Linked DNA regions of Homo sapiens: regions 1 and 3 are each linked to region 2. The links come from fine-mapping of genetic effects on gene expression. A gene starts in region 2. Each other region holds a variant in brackets. All regions are shown on one strand. Distances are between the middles of the regions. Region 1 overlaps SLC29A2 (solute carrier family 29 member 2). Region 2 holds the start of DPP3-DT (DPP3 divergent transcript). Region 3 has its middle 7.7 kb from the start of MRPL11.

The links. PIP is the estimated chance that this variant, and not a neighbour inherited with it, causes the effect. A credible set is the group of variants that fine-mapping cannot tell apart.
Region 1: its variant is the best candidate, but not a certain one, in a credible set for the expression of DPP3-DT in skeletal muscle (GTEx, PIP 0.88).
Region 3: its variant is the best candidate, but not a certain one, in a credible set for the expression of DPP3-DT in thyroid (GTEx, PIP 0.68).

What each region holds. Positions count from the first base shown.
Region 1 is chr11:66,361,750-66,364,501 of GRCh38, reverse strand. SLC29A2 (solute carrier family 29 member 2) reads left to right here. Exons shown (of 12, transcript NM_001532.3): 11 at 78-277; 12 at 955-1,981. The coding sequence ends at 1,066. It overlaps B4GAT1-DT (B4GAT1 divergent transcript), which reads right to left. Exons shown (of 2, transcript NR_135761.1): 2 at 738-1,233. Among named protein-coding and RNA genes, the nearest start is that of SLC29A2, 8.6 kb to the left of the region's middle. The variant T/C (reference allele first, on the strand shown) is at 1,237.
Region 2 is chr11:66,478,975-66,481,726 of GRCh38, reverse strand. It overlaps DPP3-DT (DPP3 divergent transcript), which reads left to right and starts at 1,478. Exons shown (of 4, transcript NR_120586.1): 1 at 1,478-1,688. It overlaps DPP3 (dipeptidyl peptidase 3), which reads right to left and starts at 1,293. Exons shown (of 18, transcript NM_130443.4): 1 at 1,262-1,293. RefSeq lists enhancers at 1,154-1,323, 1,900-2,467 and a silencer at 1,464-1,513.
Region 3 is chr11:66,429,761-66,432,512 of GRCh38, reverse strand. No RefSeq gene overlaps it. Among named protein-coding and RNA genes, the nearest start is that of MRPL11, 7.7 kb to the left of the region's middle. The variant C/G (reference allele first, on the strand shown) is at 1,576.

The DNA of each region.
Region 1 (2,752 bases), 120 kb after region 2:
ACTCTATGGGTGTCCTGAGATGCCCTGGAGCAGAGACCTGGCTCCAGGGACCATGCTGACTTCAGCTTCTACCACAGCCAGACGAGGACAGCCGGCTGCTGCCCCTGCTGGTCTGCCTGCGGTTCCTGTTCGTGCCCCTCTTCATGCTGTGCCACGTGCCCCAGAGGTCCCGGCTGCCCATCCTCTTCCCACAGGATGCCTACTTCATCACCTTCATGCTGCTCTTTGCCGTTTCTAATGGCTACCTGGTGTCCCTCACCATGTGCCTGGCGCCCAGGTCCGGGGCAATGGGGTGGGGTGGGGGGCTGGGAGTAGGGAGGTGGGTTCAGTCTTTGGGAAGGGACCGCCTGCAATGGAGGGACGGCCCATCCTGCTTCTGGCCAGCCCAACCCTAGCTGTCTGCAGGCCTTGCTGGCGCCCCCTACTGGGCCAAGCCTTAACTGCAGGGGAGAGAACTGGGCTAGGGAGGTACCCGCCCAACCAAGTAGCCCAGGCACTGGTTCTGGGGCCGCCTCAATGTGCCTCAGTTTCCCCATCTGTAAAAAAAAATGGGTTGAACTGTCATCCCTCAGGGCCCATCTAACTGTAAAATTCTCAGTTGAAGGAGAGCTAAGGTTTTGACCAAAAACAAGGTCATGGGCTATTTCCTCAAGGGGCAATGGAGTGGAGAATCCAGAGAGAATGAAGCTGGCAGGGCAGACAGGCTGAGAGCACTGTGGAAAGGGCAGGCTGTGGAATCTGGAATCCCATCATGTTAGACTCAGAGGCCCTGAGAGACATCCTTATCCAGCAGCCTCATTTACAGACCAGGAAACTGAGGCCCGGAAAGAAGGGGCCAGTTATGGTGACAGAGGGGTTGGGTCAGAGCCCAGACTGGATGGGCAGAGGGCAGTGGAGCTGGGTCCAGATTTAGACCCAGCATTTTCTAAGAGCTCCTGTTCCCGGGTGTTCTAGGCAGGTGCTGCCACACGAGAGGGAGGTGGCCGGCGCCCTCATGACCTTCTTCCTGGCCCTGGGACTTTCCTGTGGAGCCTCCCTCTCCTTCCTCTTCAAGGCGCTGCTCTGAAGTGGCCCCTCCAGGCTCTTTGGCAGCCTCTTCTCGACGTCTCCTTCCGGAGCTGAGATCCAGCCCAGGGCGAATGGCGAGCTTGGCTCAGGCCTCTGCGGGGTGGAGGCCCCTGGGCCTGAGGCTGCCAGCAGCGGGCAGGAGCTGCTCTTCATCCACTTGGAGTGCTG[T/C]GGGGAAGAAATCACCACCGGTCATTCTAACCCTCACCCAGGAATGGGGGTGACTCGCACAAGACCTCATGGAAAGGGTGATGACTAGGGAAAAGAGGGTGCAGGGCACGGCTGCTCCCCACCACCAGGTCTGCATTTGTTCATCATCATCAGGAGCAGAGGTGACCAGAGGGTTCAGAGTGGGAGGCGGGGCCAGCCCAGGCCAGGAGCGCCTCATCTTCCCAGGCCTCAGCCACCCAGGGTAAAAGGTGCCAGGGAAGTTGTGGGCACCTGAGAGGAGGAACAGATGTGGAGGACCTGAGGGTGCTCAAAGGGCCAGGCTCAGCCTCAAGCAGTGTTTTCATTGCCAACACTTACTGTACCCACTCCGCAGAGCCCAGCTGGGCCTGGGCCCCAGGGCCACAGCTAGCCTGCATGTGTGTACTGCACTTTACAGTTTGCAAAGCTCTTCCATACCCACTCTCTCACCGAAGCCTAATTGAGGCTCTTGGAAGGAGTCAGGCAAGGATTGTGCTTCCCCCATTATACAGGTGACAAAACTGAGTCCTGGGGAAAGTGACTGGTCCGTGGTAGAGCCGGGACCCAATCCCCTCTCTCTCCTCCCTGTTGGTGCTGTTCTTCCTGCCCAACACCTGTTTCTCTTTTCCTCAAGGGGTTTGGGGCAGGAGCCTGGGCACTTACTCCCCGTTTTTGCTGTTTCTCCTTCTGACCCTGCTCTTGGGTCTAATAACCCCATTTATTTGTATGATGCGTTCACCAAGTCTTTATTTCCGAAGTGCTGTTGGCTCTATTGGCCTCAGTGAACTGGGTGGGGTCGGAAAGATTGTACCCCCTTGACAGGTGGGATGACTGAGGCCCTGAGAGGGGTAGGGATTGGTGGGCATCTCTGTGCTGGGTCCTCTGGACCACATGATAGCTGGGGGGTACTGACCTGCAAGGAATCCTGAGCTCCTGGGCAGAGCACCTAGTTGGATGGACAACTATTGCTCTCCCACTCCATGAGCCCCTGGGCTCTCACCAGCATCCTCTGCCTCCCCAGGATAGCTCCTCCTTGGAAATCTGGCCTTAGAGAGGCAGTCAGTGTGGGCAGGGCTTTGGCGACCCCACCAATTCTACACACGGATGGAGGAAAGGCCTGCTTCACCACACACCTATACTACCCTGCCCGTCCCAGAGAAAAGCAAGGGTTTTCTGCCCACCTGCCTTTGTGAACATTCACTGAGCACCTATTAGATATTAGGTGCTCAGCCAGCACAGGGTACCTGCTCAGAAGCCAGGGGCTTTTTGGCATCAAGGAGGAAGACAGGCAAGATATGACCTTGGTTGCTGAAATAAGCCACAGGGCAGACCCCAAGGAAGGATTCATTCCTTTGAGCACTGTTCACAGACAGCTGCCCCGAGCCAGGCCCTGCCTGGTCTGGAGACTTTGAAACAAAGGAGACACAGTCCCCGCTCCCAAGGCCACAGGAAGCCAAATATAACTTGTGATACGTCTTGTGAGGGCCCTGCAGAAGCA
Region 2 (2,752 bases):
GCAGTGAGCTGAGACCGCACCATTGCACTCCAGCCTGGGCAACAGAGTGAGACTCCACCTCAAAAAAAAAAAAATTGATTGACTCTAACTACCTAGTATTACAGATGGGGAAACTGAGGTTCAGAGAGGCTAAGAGCCTTGCCTAATCCCACAATGGAGACATCAGCAGCAGAGATCCTCATCTCTAGGCTCCCAGCCCAGGCCCCTCCCTGCTTCCTTGTTCAGTATTATTTTTTTAAGACGGAGTCTCACTTAGTTGCCCAGGCTGGAGTGCAGTGGCATGATCTTGACTCACTGCAACCTCCGCCTCCCGGGTTCAAGCGATTCTCCTGCCTCAGCCTCCAAAGTAGTTGGGACTACAGGCGTGCATCACCATGCCCAGCTAATTTTTTGTATTTTTGATAGAGACGGGGTCTCGCTATTTTGTCCAGGCTGGTCTCGAACTCCTGGCCTCAAGCGATCTGCTTGCCTTGGCCTCCCAAAGTGCTGGGATTACAGGCGTGAGCCACCGCGCCTGGCCTTTGTTCAGAATTCTTTACACTTTCCACTGTGCTCACAAGGATAAAGTGCCAGGCCGCCAGCTGGAAGGCTCAGCCTTTAGCCAGGACTCGGCCCCAGACTCCTAAAAGTCAAGTCCATTGCTTCACTTTTCTGTACCTCCGTTTCCTCCTCTATAAAAGAGAGAATAACCCCAATATTACCAGGTGGGTGCGCTAATCAGATGAAGTCGCCCTGGACGGAAAGTATCCACAGCAATAAATGATTTTGCTTGAAACTGTCCCATTCTCATCCCTCTAAATGCCTTTTCCTTGGCCCTCCATTCTCCTGCTCGCTCCCTGTGCTCCACCAGGGAAGCCACAGAAGTTCACAACCAGAAGAAAGCCCATTTTACAGATAGGGAAACTGAGGCTTGGAAAGGGCAACAATTTACTGAAGGTCTGACAGCCCCGTTGGAACCCGGGGATTCCCCAACCCGGGGCATTCTCCCCGCCACGCCCCGTCCCGGCTGGGACAGAGTGTCCAGCCTCCTCGCCCTGCCCCGGCCTCCAGAAGCCCCGCCCCAATAGCACAGCCTCGAGGTTCGGAAAGGGCTGTTAACTCTTTGCTCCCCGGAGCACTCCTTGGCCTCGAGGGCGGGGTGAATTTGGAGGGGGTACTGGAGAGTGGGCAGAAAGGGAACGATTTTGCGCTCAGTATGGATTCGCCTTGGTCCCCCGGGATGACACGCTTTGACCCCAAAAGCCCAGGCGCCGCGCCTCACCTGCAGCAGCTGCTCCGTTCGCAAACTCACTTCCTGCTTCCGGCTCCCCCATTCATTGGGGCTCTGCGAACCCCGCCCCCCTTGGCCAACTGCCTGGCCTCGGGGTCCGGATGGGCGTCAGTACCAGCCAATAGACGCGCCAAGACGAGCTTCTCGGCTCGCCCGCTCCCGCCCCCAGGCGCTACGGGGTGGCGCGCGGATTGGCCCTGCGGGCTCGGCCTTTTGTCAGCAGGCCGCACACGCGCCGGACCGGGTACCGCTGTGCCCGGCCTGGCCGCGGCCTAGTCCCGGCAGACGGGACTGACGAGGTCACCAAGCCCAGGCCGAGACGGCGCGGGTGTCAGGGACTTGGGAATCCCCCTCCCCCAGTCCCGATCCCGCTTTCCTTTGGGGTTTCACCTCAGAGGACCCGACAGCACTCTTGCAGGTGGGAACCTACACAATAGGAGTAATGTGGCTCCACCTTCCTCTCGGGACTCGGGACCTGGGGGTGGAGACTTGGAAGTTGCAAAGCTCTCGGTGCCGGGAATCGGGGCTACGGTTGAGTGGGATCGGGCCAGGGCTGAGGTGGTCCCACCCGTGTAGGGGCGCGGAGAAACGCCTCGACTGCTTCACTGTACCACCACCCACCCGCCACGGGCCTGGAAGGAGCCGCTAAACATTCCCGAGCCTCAGTTTCCTTAGCACAAACAGGCTGGTAGTTTCCTGGTGCTTGCCAGATGCCTGATGGATGAGAAAGCCTCCTGCGGCCCCGAAAGGGAGTCCAGAGCAGAGGCGGGCCCGCGGTCCACTTTTACAGGTCTGGACGGACTCACGGGACCACGGTCTGGGTGGGGCATGCGGAAGGGCCTAGGCCAAATGGGGAGTAGTGGTGAGGGCCCAGGGTCAGACTGGGGGGTGGAGTGAGGTTGTCTGGGAGTCTTGGCTTTATGAACCGGAAAACCAGGCTAATAATTGAATCCAATCCAAGGGATATTGTAAGTTGTGATGTGTTGACTGCAGTGCCGCTCCCTATAGTTGCGCAGGGTGAGGGGCGTTTGGGTACTGAAATCCCGCACGGTCTCCTTGCTACGCCCGTGTCTAGGCCAGACAGCCTCTGCTTACCATAGACACCAGTTTCTCATCCACAAAGGTGCCCAAGGCCCTGCTTGACACAACAGTGTTACAAGCTGTTAGCTTTGATGATTACTTGTTATATGGGGGAGTTCAACAAGTTGGTCGGTGTCCTTAGGAAAGTCACCCCTCTTCTTTCCTGTGCCTCCGTTTTCATTGTCTTTAAAATGGGTATAAAGTTGGCTGACAGGTGAAGTTGAAATGTGCACAGGTAAGGGAGGTAGTGCTGCCCACTGCCAGCAGGGGGCAGCTCAGGCAAGGAAAAGACCCCAGTGCTCTCAGGACCCCCCAACCAGCTACGTGATCACATTTTTATGATCACAGATAAGATGAGCATATACTGAGGTCCCTTGCTAGCAGTTTGGCATGGAGGACCTC
Region 3 (2,752 bases), 49 kb after region 2:
TATAATCCCAGCTACTCAGGAGGCTGAGGCAGGAAAATCACTTGACCCCGGGAGGCGGAGGTTGCAGTGAGCCAAGATCATGCCACTGCATTCCAGCCTGGGCAACAAGAGCGAAATTCCATCTCAAAAAAAAAGGAAAACAAAAACAAAACTTTCTTATCCATTTTTCCATCTTTTTCTCTATTTTTTTTTCTTTTGAGACACTCTGTCACCTAGGCTGGAGTGCAATGGCACAATCTCGGCTTACTGCAAGCTCCACCTCCCAGGTTCAAGCAGTTCTCCTGCCTCAGCCTCCAGAGTAGCTGGGACTACAGGTGCGCACCAACACGCCTAGCTAATTTTTGTATTTTAGTAGAGATGGGGTTTCACCATATTGGCCAGGCTGGTCTTGAACTCCTGACCTCGTGATCCGCCCAGGCTCCCAAAGTGCTGAGATTACAGGCGTGAGCCACCGTGACCAGGCAGTTTTTTCTAAGTAAACAACAACCCTTCACTCACTCACTAAAGTCAGAAACAGGAGACTTCTCTTTTCCTCACCCCCATTTGAAATCCATTAGCAAATCCTGTCAGTTCTGCCTCTGAAGCATTCCAAAGCCAGTCACTCACCTCCGCCTGGACTTGAGGGAAGCACTTGGGTGTGAGTTCTCGTCCTATTTGCCTGGATCACTGCAGAAGCCTAAACTGGTCTCTGCTTCTCCTCCTACCTCATTCAATCCATTCTCCACACAACTTTCAGTGGGATGGCTTAAAAATGTGAATTATATGTCGTTCTCTCACTTAAATTTCCCCAGAGGATTCCTATTGCACATGAAATAAAATCTAAGTTTCTTATCCTGGTCCAAAGGCCCTGGGTAATCTTCCTTCTCTCCAGCCACTCTTCCCCTTGCCACACTGACTTCTTTCCTATTCCTTAAACAGGTCAATCCTTTCCCATTTTGATACCCTTAGTTTTGCTTTTCTTTGACCTGGAGCACTCTTCTTCCTCTTTCCTTCCTTCTTTCCTTCTTTCCTTCCTTCCTTCCTTTCTTCCTTCCTTTTCTCTTTCTCTCTCTCCTCTCTTTTCTTTCTTTCTTTCTTTTTTCTTTCTTTCTTTTTCTTTCTTTCCTTCTTCTTTCCTTTTCTTTCTTTCTCTCATTCTGTCACCCAGGCTGGAGTGCAGTGGCACAATCTCAGCTCACTGCAACCTCTGCCTCCTGTGTTCAAGTGATTCTCCTGCCTCAGCCTCCCGAGTAGCTGGGACTACAGGCGCCCGCCACCACGCCCGGCTAATTTTTTATATTTTTAGTAGAGACGGAGTTTCACCGTGTTAGCCAGGATGGTCTTGATATCCTGACCTCGTGATCCGCCCGCTTCTGCCTCCCAAAGTCCAAAGTGCTGGGATTACAGGGGTGAGCCACAGCGCCCGGACTTTTTTTTTTTTTTTTTTTTTTTTTTTTGAGACGACGTCTCACTCTTGTCACCCAGGCTGGAGTGCAGTGGTGTAAGTGCAATCAAGGCTCACTGCAGCCTCGCCCTTCTGGGCTCAGGTGATCTTCCCACCTCAGCCTTTTGGGTAGCTGGGACTACAGGTGCACA[C/G]CACCACACCTGGCTAACTTTTTGCTTTTTTTTTTTTTTTTTTTTTTTTTTTGTAGAGACGGGGTTTTGCCTTGTTGCCCAGGCTGGTTTCAAACTCCTGGACTCAAGCTATCCACCTGCTTCAGTCTCCCAAAGTGCTAGGATTACAGGCACAAGCCACCGTGCCCGGCCTCTTCTTCTTTCTTATCTTTTAGGTCTTAGCTCAATGTCACCTTAGAAGAGCTTTCTGATGCCACATTCTAAATTAGCACCCCCTCCTCAGTTCCGCTCGGCCACAGTACACAGGTTCTTTCTTTCACTGCACGCACTGCATGCTCCCTTTAAAGAGTTATTTTACTTTTTGTTACGTCTCCCCACAACTTCAGTGTAAGGTCTGTGAGTCCAGGGACCTTGTCTGTCTTGTTCAGTTTTCCCCAGGACCCAGCAAAGCCCTTGGCGCATGTAGGTGTCATAAGTGTTTATCACATGCAAAATGAAGTGCCAGAGCCAATATTTGACCTCAGTCTTTGTGACTCCAAAACTTCAGCCCTTTCTCATACCTTTTTGCTCCCAGGGCAGCAACCTGGTGTTGGTGGCAAGGGTGCTTGAGAGTCAGATTTGGCTTCTGCAGCCACTTTGGAAGTGCCATTGGGCAATTCCTTTCTTCTCTCTGGGCCTCAGTTTACCCATCTATTCTAAGATGCAATATTGTTGATGCTCTGAGCCACAGGGACCGTGCCAGGGAAGGGAACAGAAGCAGATGGTTCTATGTCCAGCAGGGGGCGCAATGGGCTCGCTCAACTTCTTTCTCCGCATGGGTCGACGGCCTGGCTCTCCAGTTCTGAGTGTCAGGGTGCCTTCTTGTCCACACACACTCTACCATCTCCTGTCACTGCCACCAAATACCAGGGAGGGGTTTCTTTTTTTCTTCCATAATTTTTACCTTTTAAAGTTGTGGGGCGGCTGGGCATGGTGGCTCACGCCTGTAATCCCAGCACTTTAGGAGGCTGAAGCTGGTAGATCACGAGGTCAAGAGATTGAGAGAAGCTTGGCCAACATGGTGAAACCCCGTCTCTACTAAAAATAGAAAAATTAGCCAGGCGTGGTGTCATGCGCCTGGAATCCCAGCTACCCAGGAGGCTGAGGCAGGAGAATCGCTGGAACCCGGGAGGCAGAGGCTGTAGTGAGCCGAGATCGT